2 linked regions of the Homo sapiens genome follow. The protein of the gene in region 1 interacts with the protein of each later gene in a pairwise test. Each region holds a gene or a part of one and is shown on either strand. Other genes may lie near its edges.

The links.
Region 2: the proteins of ELMO1 (region 1) and DOCK3 interact in a two-hybrid assay, tested with the Homo sapiens proteins (one study listed by BioGRID).

What each region holds. Positions count from the first base shown.
Region 1 is NC_000007.14:36,852,406-36,858,040, reverse strand, and holds the end of ELMO1 (engulfment and cell motility protein 1), read left to right. Parts: intron 1-2,289; coding exon 2,290-2,490; 3' UTR 2,491-5,135; downstream 5,136-5,635. UniProt on the Homo sapiens protein: Involved in cytoskeletal rearrangements required for phagocytosis of apoptotic cells and cell motility. Acts in association with DOCK1 and CRK. Was initially proposed to be required in complex with DOCK1 to activate Rac Rho small GTPases.
Region 2 is NC_000003.12:51,356,794-51,363,969, forward strand, and holds part of DOCK3 (dedicator of cytokinesis protein 3), read left to right. Parts: intron 1-168; coding exon 169-348; intron 349-964; coding exon 965-1,048; intron 1,049-1,167; coding exon 1,168-1,284; intron 1,285-3,717; coding exon 3,718-3,839; intron 3,840-5,065; coding exon 5,066-5,204; intron 5,205-5,733; coding exon 5,734-5,881; intron 5,882-7,176. UniProt on the Homo sapiens protein: Potential guanine nucleotide exchange factor (GEF). GEF proteins activate some small GTPases by exchanging bound GDP for free GTP.

The sequences.
Region 1 (5,635 bases):
GAATTGTGTCTCAATATGTTGCAGTTACTGTCGTTATTAGTTTCTAAGTTATCCTGTCTGGAACAAGTAGGAACACCATTGGGTTGGCATCTGAGTCCTATTGGGAGGACCCCTTACGTCTTTGATAACTTTCTGGCATTCTGGTATGATGGAGTGTTCCAGGTTTATCTTTATGTTTCCTGCCTTTTCTCTGTGAAGCCTTGATTACTTGTAGTGGGAAATGATATTTAGTGACCAGAATCTAAGCATGAGTTGTGTTTATGGTCATTGCACACCACGATGCAGTGGTTCTTGGTTGGTCATTATTTTTTAGCCCTTTTTGGGGACAGAGCTAGGTGGTTTTCTTTTAAGATAAACTAATGAATTGATACTGATAGTTCCAACTCAAATTCAGTATCAGTACTACAGGGTTTTTATTTATTGGTCGATGTACTTTCACATAAAATTTTCTGTGCCTGTTGTTTCTAAAAAGAAACGTGCTGCAGAAGTGTTCCTGTGGGTTAAACTAATCTATACTAGGAAGCTAGCCAGGCCTGGGAAGGCTGTGTGAAAAGAACAGTAATCCCCAGGACTTGGGGATTTACCATGAAACAGCATGAAAGCTGGAAGGGGCCTTTGAGAATGTAGAGTTCAGTGGCACCCGTACCTGCGTGTTCGTTAGAGTTTTCTAGGAAGCAAAGTCTCCTCACCCTAGATCTACATGATCAGGATCTCCAAGGTAGGAGCTAGGTGTCTACTTCTGTCAAGGTTATTTATGAAGAAATTGATGGTTAGACATGTTCAGAATCAGATCATGAGGACACTAATTCTTCCGGAAATCCCTTAACACTAAATTGATGTTTCGATGGGTTAAATGCTTTGGCTGAGATCACATAGCCAAGGTAGAACCAAAGCCCTCCAAATCAATGCTGCCCTCCTGAAACACAGATCTCATAATACACCCATTGTGCATCTCCTCAGCTTAAAAAGGAGGACCGCTGATGTGCATCACGGAAGATTTCCATCACATCATGGTGACTGGAGATTTATATAGTGCTTGCAGTATACTTTGGTTACTTTTACGTTGAGATCTGCTACCATGGAATACAGTCCAGATAACCACAGTGCCAAAGTAGGTTAAAGAGGGTCTGGAATTGCCGCTTGAACTAGTGAGGCAGAAAAGTTGGGAATCTGGAGTGCATGGTAGAAGGAAGACCACTTCAACAGAAGAGGAGAACAATTGCTGTTATAGAATCCTATATAGGACTACTAGAAACCTAAACTCCAGTGCATGAGTGGAGCCCAGCATCCAGAATGCCAAGCAGCTTTCTGAGATGCTGGCATCAGGGGTGCCTCTTTCACCAGGTGTCATGGTTCTCTGTCCATGTCAGTACAGAACTCCAGCCTCTGGGAGGGGAAGCTAAGAAGAGAAAAGCAGGTCCTCAGACAAGGCACAGTTCTTCCTTCTCCCTCACAGAGATCATAGTCTCCTGGAGAGACAAAAGGCTATGAAAGGAGAAGAATCAGACTCTTAGTTGGGTACTGTGAAGGGCTTTCCAAAACAGATAATATCCCCAAGTATGAGGCCCCAGAGACCTGGTGAAAAGAAACCTTAGGAACTAGAGACAAAGGCTAAAGAGGTCCCCAGACAGGCAGCCAACCCTCCTCCCATTAAGATTGCCCAATAATTTTAACCATTTTGGCTGCCAGACACTGGGCAGCATAAGCCTATTTCCTAGCCCTTTAGCTGAGAAACACCAAGGTGGGACTGCCATTGGCCATTGGCTCCAGGGTGGGACAGGGCTGTCATTGTGAATGCTAGGATCAGACAGGACAGGCCGAGATGAGCTACTAGACTAGGAGCCATGACTGGAGTCAGCAAAGAAACCTGCTTCACCTGATGTTGAGTCCAGGGCTGTTCGGTAGATTCCACCAGTACCTAAAAGTCATAGACTCCCACCTAGGTGTTACATTGCAAGTCATGGAGAACTCCAATCCTCAGCTGTTACAGAGAAGCATTCTTTGCAAAGAAGAGCACAGGCACTGGAGTCAGATTGCCTGGGTTCAAATCCCACCCGGTCTACATAATACTGAGTCACTTCTCTGTACCTCAGTTCCTTCACCTATAAAACAGAGATAACAGAAGTATCGACTTTATATTGAGATGTCGCCAAATATGAAATGACGAAGTAGGCAGAGCCCTTAGCGCACAGCCTACTGAGGGATGAGTATTCACTGTTAGCTATTTTTACTATTAATACTTCTGTAATTGCCACCAGTAATGATCGCTGTTGCCTCCCTTCCTGCCAGTACTGTATCTGGACGGATGGACTGAATGCGCTACTCGGGAAGGACATGATGAGCGACCTGACGCGGAATGACCTGGACACCCTGCTCAGCATGGAAATCAAGCTCCGCCTCCTGGACCTGGAAAACATCCAGATCCCTGACGCACCTCCGCCGATTCCCAAGGAGCCCAGCAACTATGACTTCGTCTATGACTGTAACTGAAGTGGCCGGGCCCAGACATGCCCCTTCCAAAACTGGAACACCTAGCTAACAGGAGAGAGGAATGAAAACACACCCACGCCTTGGAACCGTCCTTTGGTAAAGGGAAGCTGTGGGTCCACATTCCCTTCAGCATCACCTCTAGCCCTGGCAACTTTCAGCCCCTAGCTGGCATCTTGCTCACCGCCCTGATTCTGTTCCTCGGCTCCACTGCTTCAGGTCACTTCCCATGGCTGCAGTCCACTGGTGGGACAAGAGCAAAGCCCACTGCCAGTAAGAAGGCCAAAGGGCCCTTCCATCCTAGCCCTCTGCAGGCATGCCCTTCCTTCCCTTGGGCAGGAAAGCCAGCAGCCCCAGACTGCCCAAAAACTTGCCCACCAGACCAAGGGCAGTGCCCCAAGGCCCCTGTCTGGAGGAAATGGCCTAGCTATTTGATGAGAAGACCAAACCCCACATCCTCCTTTCCCCTCTCTCTAGAATCATCTCGCACCACCAGTTACACTTGAATTAAGATCTGCGCTCAAATCTCCTCCCACCTCTCTCCCTGCTTTTGCCTTGCTCTGTTCCTCTTTGGTCCCAAGAGCAGCAGCCGCAGCCTCCTCGTGATCCTCCCTAGCATAAATTTCCCAAACAGTCCACAGGTCCCATGCCCACTTTGCGTCTGCACTGTGATCGTGACAAATCTTCCCTCCTCACCAGCTAGTCTGGGGTTTCCTCTCCCTGCCCCAGGCCAGAACTGCCTTCTTCATTTCCACCCACGCTCCCAGCCTCTTAGCTGAAAGCACAAATGGTGAAATCAGTAGTCTCGCTCCATCTCTAATAGACTAAACCTAAATGCCTCTAGGACGGACTGTTGCTATCCAAGCGTTTGGTGTTACCTTCTCCTGGGAGGTCCTGCTGCAACTCAAGTTCCACAGGATGGTCAAGCTGTCAGACATCCAAGTTTACATCATTGTAATTATTACTGGTATTTACAATTTGCAAGAGTTTTGGGTTAGTTTTTTTTTTTTTTTTTGCTTTGTTTTTGTACAAAAGAGTCTAACATTTTTTGCCAAACAGATATATATTTAATGAAAAGAAGAGATACATAAATGTGTGAATTTCCAGTTTTTTTTTAATTATTTTAATCCCAAACATCTTCCTGAAAATAACATTCCCTTAAACATGCTGTGGAATAAAATGGATTGTGATGATTTGGGGAGCTGGTGTTTTGATTTAGTAACTTAGGTTCTTGCTACTCAGTCATCAGCATCACCTGGGAGCTTGTTGGAGATGCCAGCTCTTCAGCTCCACCCTAGACCTGCTGAATTGGGTGATGTTTATGTACATTGGTTTGAAAAACACTGCTGTGGGAAACCCTCCACCATTGCTAGGTCACCATAGGCTCTGAGCATCAGTGGAGAATGTTACTTCTAAGAAGACCATCTCGACTCACTGAGAAAATCAGACCCACTGTATGAAAATATCTATTCCTTTTACATTGCTGTCTCTTGACCATGACTTTCTCTTTTTTCTTTCTTACCATGATATAATTTATAGAATGGGTCTAATTAAAGACATCACAACTTTGAGGGAGCACATTTAGCAATGAAAAGAATGCATACCCACAGACCTGAAATAAGCCAGAACTAAATAAATCTAACCGTGGGTTAATAAATTATAGGTCAGAGCCCAGCGAAGGATGTTTCTTAAGTCATTTGCACTGGAGGCATTATCAGGATTGTAAACTCCCAGCACTGGGAGGGATGTCAGAAGGGTCCAAGCATGCAGTATTAAGCGTGGCACAGCACCAGCCACTCTGGCCTCACAGCACAAGCTGTGGAAGCATCCAGGTCATTTCTCTTTACCGTCATCAGGATGTGCAATTACAGATTGACCTGGGTTGAGATGATATGGTCCAGAGCACTGCATGCATTGCAGGAAAAAAGTCCTTTGCATTCACAGGGGTTCCTTCTTCCCATCAGAGCACTCACACCTGTGTCAAGCTGTTAATTCCTTGATCATTAAGCTTCGATGTTATTAACATGTACTTGCTATCAGGAGCAGTTATTAATCTACCCATCATCATGATAAAACAGTAAGTGTTAGGTCAAAGGCAGCAAACAAAGTCATATTATTTTTTTCTTATGGGTTACAAGATCCAATCCATGAAAAAGGGAACTTTCTGGACCAGGATCTCTGAGGTCCTGAGACACTGGGTTTAAGAAATGTATCTGTCCTGTGACCTTGGTTGGGGAGATCCAGCCCCTCTCTCTTCTGGCACTCCAGCTTTGGTGCATTTAATAGAAAGAAACCTTTTCAGGACTATGAAAGGCAGCATTCTCCAGCTCCTCCCTAGACCCTCCTTTGGACCTGTGAGATCTGAAGAGTATGCCATCTGTTTCCATTCATTTTGTGACCATGTGGGGAAGGATTGTTGCCCATATTTGGCCACCTCACCTTCTCTCTCCAGGCTGCCCAAGGCTTTTTTTCCCATGCAATGAGCCTACCACCTCCAACTCATCTCCTGTTGCCTGCAGTTTCCTAAGCCTGGGCAACTCAGCCAAATCCAAGGCAGAAGTAAAGTAGGAAGACTGATGTTGTCGTGAAGTCCAAGTTGCATTCTGCTATTCATATTACTCAAAATAAAACTGATTACTTAATTTGAATCTGCTGATGTTTAAATTCCTCTCTTATTCTTGTTCAGAACACATAAGAGGAAGGAGAATTAACTGGCCTCTGAAACCTCTGTGACAACATTTAAGGGCAGGGAAAGCTAATAGTAATTGCAAAAGAAAAAGTGCAAGGCTGAATGTTTCTTGAGTCTATTTGCAAGTCCGTTCTAAGCCATCCTTCAGTTATCACCTACAGCATGTCCTGTCCACCTGCTTTTACAATGAACAAAGCAATGGGTGTCCCCAATGACATGCATACCAGTCATCCATTTTGTTTTAGTTATGAAAATACAATTAACACAATCCTTTCATTTTAAGGGGAAATGAAATATCCATTCAATAATCAAAAGTGTGCTTAGAGATAGGCCCTAGGAACTCAACAAGAACAAAATTTGTAAAATTGAGATTTGTAAAAATGAGAACAAAATTCATCAAATCAGGGAAATGACAAGCAACTTAGTCAAATATAAAACCGAAAAGTTGCAGCACAGTGT
Region 2 (7,176 bases), on another chromosome or scaffold:
CAAGTGCCTATAAATCAGACAACAGAAGTGGAAAGGGTCCAGGGAGTCTCAAGTTCACAGGAACAAGGAAGGGGAATCAATACCACAGATCTTAGACCCCAGCTCTCAGGAAGATGATGAGGGGTTATCATCATTTCTGGGATGACTCTGTGTGCTGTGTGCCCCTAGGTGGAGGTGAGCCCTCTGGAGAATGCCATCCAAGTGGTTGAGAATAAGAACCAGGAGCTACGCTCCCTGATCAGCCAGTATCAACACAAGCAGGTGCATGGCAACATTAACCTGCTAAGCATGTGCCTGAATGGTGTCATTGATGCAGCTGTCAATGGAGGCATTGCACGCTATCAGGAGGTAAGCTGTGGCCACAGGCCAAACCCATGCAGCCAGCCTGGCCAGGAAGGCGGCTCACAGGCTTCTCTTTTCAAGATTATAGTCTCCTTAGGTAGCCTTCCCTACATGCCCTCTCTTGACATGGTCCTGGAATGAGGCCCTAAGCTCCCTATCACTCCCTATTTCTTTGGCACAGTTTGGTAGGGCCTTTTCTTCATTTTTATTCTCTGAACTCTAAGATGGGTAATCTGTAATCCTGATTATGGGAGGATGTTAAGTGCCCTCCAAGAGGAGCCTTGGAGCCCAGCCCGTCAGGAGAAGTGAGTTGTAGGCTGGATAAGAGGCTAGCCCCTACTCCCAGTCCACCAGTCCTGCCTGCCCTACCTAGGCCATCCAGGCTCCATGAGGGACTGGGGTCAGCATCCAGACTTAGATGGCTTGGCCACGTTCAGTCCTTCTCAGACAAAAAAACACACCTCTAATTGCCAGAAGTTCAAACAGGCCAGACTGGTGTATGTACCTATGAGGAGACAGCCTGGCTGCTTTTTAGGTGGCATTAGTGGACTCAAGTCTCCTGGGCCCCACTTAAGTAGTAGTCCTGGGAAGAGTCTTCCTGACTTGGCCTTTCCTTTCACAGGCCTTCTTTGATAAAGATTACATCAACAAGCACCCAGGAGATGCTGAGAAGATCACCCAGCTCAAGGAGCTTATGCAGGAGCAGGTATGTCTTGGAGGGCTTGGGAACCAGCAGCCAGGTGAGAAAAGCCATGCACTACAAGATGAGCAGTTCTCAGGGGCTACTCATGGTTCACAGAGTGGCCTTGTTTGTGACTCTGATAGGTTCATGTCCTTGGAGTTGGGCTAGCAGTTCATGAGAAGTTTGTGCACCCAGAAATGCGGCCTCTGCATAAGAAGCTAATTGATCAGTTCCAGATGATGCGGGCCAGTCTCTACCATGTAAGTTGATCCCTGTCCTGCCCCTGCTGCAGTAGAACCAGGTGTCACTTCCTCCAGACCTACGCCACAAACCAAAGGAAAATAGGAGAGAGGGAGCCTGGGCAGGGGCCGGGGTTGGGGAGAGAGGCTGTCCTCCCTACAGAGGGACAGGGGGCAAGGATGGATGCTATATCCAGGGGAAGGATGCTGAGGATCCTCCCACTCACTCACTCCCAAAGGAGGAGCCAGATTCAAGGGCAGGGAACGTTTTTCAGGGCACTGTGCTAGTAGACAGGTTTTCATATGTGAAGGAAGAGAGCTAACATATATGGCCCACATGTAGGGATCTTTTTGGAGATGTTTTTCATCCCAAGAACCTAAAGAGATAGGCATGGCCTGAGCCAGCCTTCTCTCCCCATCTCCCTCCTCCTCCTCTCTCCCTGTCCTTCTTCATTCTTTCTCCTCCCTCTAATCGTTCTCTTTTCCCTCTTTTTACTCTTCCTCCCAACTCCCTTTTCTCCCTCTGTCTCTCCCTCCCTCTTATTCCCAGCTTCCTCTATCATGTCTCGTGATCCAAGCTCACATCTGAGATAGCCTAGGATGAGCAGTACTTTCATGCTAGCAGTCCTTAAAGGAGTCAAGCAGGTCCTGGGGCTGGACCAGGCTCCTGAAAGTCTCCCTAACTCTGGCCCAGCTCTTCAGCCTCCACAGTAGGGTTTGGCCCAAGGACTTAAACACACAAACAGGACTTATATTCCAGGACCAGTATTCCTTGGCAGGGTCTTAGAGGAAATGCTGACTGGCTGAGGATAGAGCCCCCTATTCACATATCCAAACCTCATTTTCAACTGTGGGGCTGACTCCAAATGTTTTCTAAAGATCCCTTCCTGCTAAACAGGCTGGCTCCCAGATCTTAAGGGATATGAGCCCAATTACCTGCTGCTACCTGGCACCCAAGCCAAGTTCTCTTCTCATCACCCAGGACCACTGGACAGAAGTGGCAGGGAGACAAGAAGTAGAGCTGTTCAATGCTGCACGAGGTTGTCATGAGCAAAAAATTCCCCCTCTAGGGATAACCATGGCCACAGGAGCCCTGAGGGAGGTTGCACTACTTAAACTCAGTGGGCCTGACCCATTTGGGGCGGACCTGCTGTGTTCTTGGATGCTGCAGGTTCTGGTCATCTCCGTCCCTCCAGGCTCCCAGTGCAGGTCTCAGCCTGTGTGGACAAGTGTGGACAGCATGAAAAGAGAAAAAGAAGCTTGTTGTAGTTTGAGAGGTAGGGGCACATTTTCCAGAGGAAAGCCTGGAGATCCTGAAATTTCTCCCTCTGTTAGGATTCTCCCATGGTATTTCAAGGTGAAATATGCAGAGAAGCTCTTTTACATCTCCGCCTTAAAATTGGAGTGTCCATTTAGTTAAGAACTTGGGCAGTATCGCTGAGTCTGGTGGGTATTCATTCCACTACCTCTCATTCCAGGGTCTCCTGCCTGTTTGACTGGTCTCTGCTGTGTGCAAACTTCCCCATCACAGCAGGTGACCCAAGCAGGCTGGAGCCTGGCCAGTGAGGAGGTTCTCTGCCATGTGGGTTGCAGCAAAAAGCACAAAACACTTTCCTATATACATCACGTTCTTCCGTGTGCACACATAGCCTTTCTCCAGCTACAGAAATACATTTTAGCCCTCTGTATGCTTTGGAAGAAGCAGGTGGAAAACCCGGTGCTTCTTCACACCAAGCTCAGAAATATCCCCAGTGGACTTAGGGCCCCTGTTCACTACAGCTTTTGAAGGACGTGAGGAAACCTTAACAGTTGTTTCCTCTGAGTTGTACACAGGGACACAAACAAACATGCTGTCACCCAGTAGGGTTTGAGATCAGAAGTGTCTGCCCAGAAATCTACATACTTAATATGAATTAATTAAGCTAAAATAGAGCTGTGCTATTTTTCAGTTACATACATCAGGATTTTATGTTCTGTCTCCCCGTAGACTGTGTCACAGACAACCCAGGTCACTAAGAGCTGGGCCATTTAGCAGTCTAATAAAACCCAACACCAATCCTTATGTAATTGGTGCCCACCTATTGACAACTAATAATAAGCTCTTCCTCTCCTTCTTCCCAGATCTTGTTCTACTTATTCCGTAGCGAGAAAACCTGTTAACACACTCCTATGAGCTCAGACCAGCTTCAGTTTATTCCAGATGTGCTTCTCTTAATGTGGAGTCAACCTGGGGCCTCGCACACGGCCTTTGGTCTAGGTTCCAGTGCAGTTAGGAGGGTGTTTTAGTCGTGAAGAGGGCATTGCCCAAAGGAAGTCAGCAGTTCAGGTTCAGCCAACCATATGATTCTTTTTTGTTTCTTTTACATTTTTGATCACCAGTCAGTTATTCCCTCACATCCCTTAGTTACTTATTTATTCTTTACTCTCTATGAAGGGGCATTCATTTCTCAACAGGAGTTTCCAGGTTTGGATAAGCTAAGTCCTGCATGTTCAGGCACCAGCACCCCACGGGGAAATGTTCTGGCATCCCATAGCCCCATGAGTCCGGAGAGCATCAAGATGACCCACCGGCACAGGTATGGCCTTAGGGCTGGGGAGGGTTCCCTCTGGAGAGGTGAGTCTAAATTGTCAAGGGTCAGAGGAAAGAGTCCTCATGTATACTCATATTCCCTCTTACCCATGCACACAGCAAACACTTATGTGGCTCCTGCCATAGGACCCACACCCTGCATTCAGTCAGTCACTATCCTGGGTAAGAGAAGTGTATACATGATACTGTGGGAACATGGAGGAGGGGGCATTTGGGGTAAGTCTTGAAGGATAAGTAGATGTTTGCTAGGGGTTAGGAGGGTGATAGGGCAAGATCTAGGAAAATCGACTGACACATGCAGAAGCCTCAAGATATGAACAAGCCAGCCTGGTCAGCACTCTGAGTAGAGCCAAGTGGCTGGAGTGCCGGATTCCAGGGCACGGAAAGGGGATAGGATCAGCTCTGAGTGGGCCTTGTTCATGCAGGCCTTTGGACTTGATCCCAAGGAGAATGAGGATCACCAAGTCAGTTTTAAGGAAGAAACAGCATAGTGATGTGAACATCAAAGACTGGTTTGCCTGGGCTCAACTGAGAATACTGAAAGCCTCTAGGCCAGGAAGGCCAAGTTGGAGGAGGAGACTAGTGAGAGGAGCCCCTCACTTAGGCTTGTTTTCCAGTGTGAGCAGCAGCTCAGCACAGAGTGGGCACTTAGTAAATAAGGGACAAATGAATGAGAAGCTTTCCTGGTATTGCTAGAGGAGAGCTATTGACAAGCCTTTTGGCCACAGATGTGGAAGGAGGCCTGCAGATAGTTCACAGCCGGCTATTTTGGTAGCTTCCCACACTAGGAAGAAGCCTCTGACCAAGAAGCAGATCCCATCATGGTGTGGGGGGGTTGGGGGGTGGGCACTGACCCAGACTAATACCCCATAGAAAGGGGAACCTGAGGTCTTTGACCTGATTTGGCATATCTCTTATTCCTCCTGAGAAACTGCTAATGTCATGCAACTGAGTGGCCATAAGCCATGTAGCTGTAGGTAGAGGCTTGTCCAGTGTACCACACCATTGTCTCTCCCAGACCAAGGGCTCCTGAGTAGCAGGGTACAGCTCAGGACTGCTCCAGGCCTCAGATGGGTATGAGCATTGACTATGGAACCCTCCAAACCGGTGGTAGCTGAAACCAGGGATGACTATTCCACACATTCCGCTCTACTGTCCCCCTGCCACCTGCCATGGGCCTGACTCCTCCCTATTTCCCACTCTTGCTCACAGCCCCATGAACTTGATGGGCACAGGCCGCCATTCATCATCCTCTCTCTCCTCACATGCGTCTAGTGAAGCAGGAAACATGGTGATGCTGGGTGACGGCTCCATGGGTGATGCTCCTGAGGACCTGTACCACCACATGCAGGTACAGAGCTGTCCACGGAGAGTGGGCCAGGGCACCATGCCTACAGAACTCACCTTGCTGTTGCAATGTCTAGTCTGAGGGCTTGGCAACCCTGCCTAATTCTCTAGCTCCTGAATTCAGAACACCCCTCACCAGAGCTAGAAAGCTGCCGTTCCTCCACACACCATCCTAAGTCTCGGTTCCCAGGCCTTATTTCCCAAGAAGAAAATCCAGCTTCAGTCCTGGTTGCTTTAGGAGATCCCACGGGAAAGATCCTCTGCCAGATTGCCCCCTTGCCTGGCATTCCTGTTGGCTTAGCCCTGCTTCCTCCATGGTCACCGTAGTATGGCCAGCCCAACAACTTCGCTCCATATGGGTGGTGTGGGTGGCCCCTAGTTGCCCAGCCATTAGCCTGGCCTCCATCAGGGCTCAGGGGATAGCATAAGGCACTGGGGCAGAACACCTCAGGGCATGAAAAAGCAAACTCTGTGCCAGCCCTAAAGTCCTGGCCATTCAGACCTCTATCCTGCTGATTTTTCTCCCTTTGCAGCTCGCGTATCCCAACCCCAGGTACCAAGGCTCAGTCACCAACGTCTCTGTTCTGTCCTCGTCCCAGGCAAGCCCTTCTTCCTCCAGCCTGAGTTCCACTCACTCAGCACCATCCCAGATGATTACCTCTGCCCCTTCCAGTGCCCGAGGTAAGGATGGCAGGGTGCTACTTGCAGAATGGAGAAGAGAGGTCTTCATCAACGCCACTCGGCTTCCTCTCATCTGTGGCTGTGTCTTTGAGCAGCCCTGTGACTTAGAGAATACTCATTTGTGCTTTTACCACTAAGGACTCGAGAGTTCCTGCCTCCAGGCCTCTTCCCTGGCTGGCTTCAGACTCCGCTCTGAGCAGTGGCTGCCGCTGTGCCGCCATTGCATTTCTACCTCAGTCACAGGACACACAGCTTAGAAGAAAGCTCACTTCTTTCCCATTGAAAGTTTTGCTAGAACAAAGATCAAAGTCTAGGCAAAAGTGAGTCTTTTGTCTTGAGGAATCAGGCATGATGACAAAGTATGAAAAGTAAATCGGGAGACTAAAATTAACCCTGGAAAATGTTATTCTAAAACAATAACAGCAACCAAAAAATTTTTCTTCAGTTGGGAAAGGCTTTCTCAGGAGAGATGGCTCTGTAAAAACCTATTTACTTTGCCAATTATTAGTTGATTTCTTGTTCAGTTGAATGAATATTGTTCTTTGAGAGGCAGCATCTTCGCATCTTTTTCACGTTCTAATCCTAGTTCCCAAGTGAAAGTTGATTCTGTCCTTGTAGACAGAAACATTTGCAGTGGAATGGAAATTAGCTGTGGTACATAGGATCTAGTGCTTCCCAGGGTTGGCTTTGCAGGGTAGTGACAGTGGTCTGAGCTTGCCAGCCAGTCACTTGCTCTTGCTTCCAGGCTTCAGAAGGAGGGAGTCTCTTTGTTCTTCTCATTATTATGAAACCAAAGAAAAATATCACAAATTTATTTATTTATTTTATTATACTTTAAGTTCTATGGTACATGTGCACAACGTGCAGGTTTGTTACTATGTATACATGTGCCATGTTGGTGTGCTGCACCCGTTAACTCGTCATTTACATTAGGTATATCTCCTAATGCTATCCCTCCCCACTTCCCCCACCTGACAACAGGCCCCAGTGTGTGATGTTCCCCACCCTGTGTCCAAGTGTTCTCATTGTTCAGTTCTCACCTATGAGTGAGAACATGCAGTGTTTGGTTTTCTGTCCTTGCAATAGTTTGCTCAGAATGATGGATTCCAGCTTCATCCATATCCCTACAAAGGACATGAACTCATCCTTTTTTATGGCAGCATAGTATTCCATGGTGTATATGTGCCACATTTTCTTAATCCAGTCTGTCATTGATGGACACTTGGGTTGGTTCCAAGTCTTTGCTATTGTGAATAGTGCCGCAGTAAACATACATGTGCATGTGTCTTTATAGT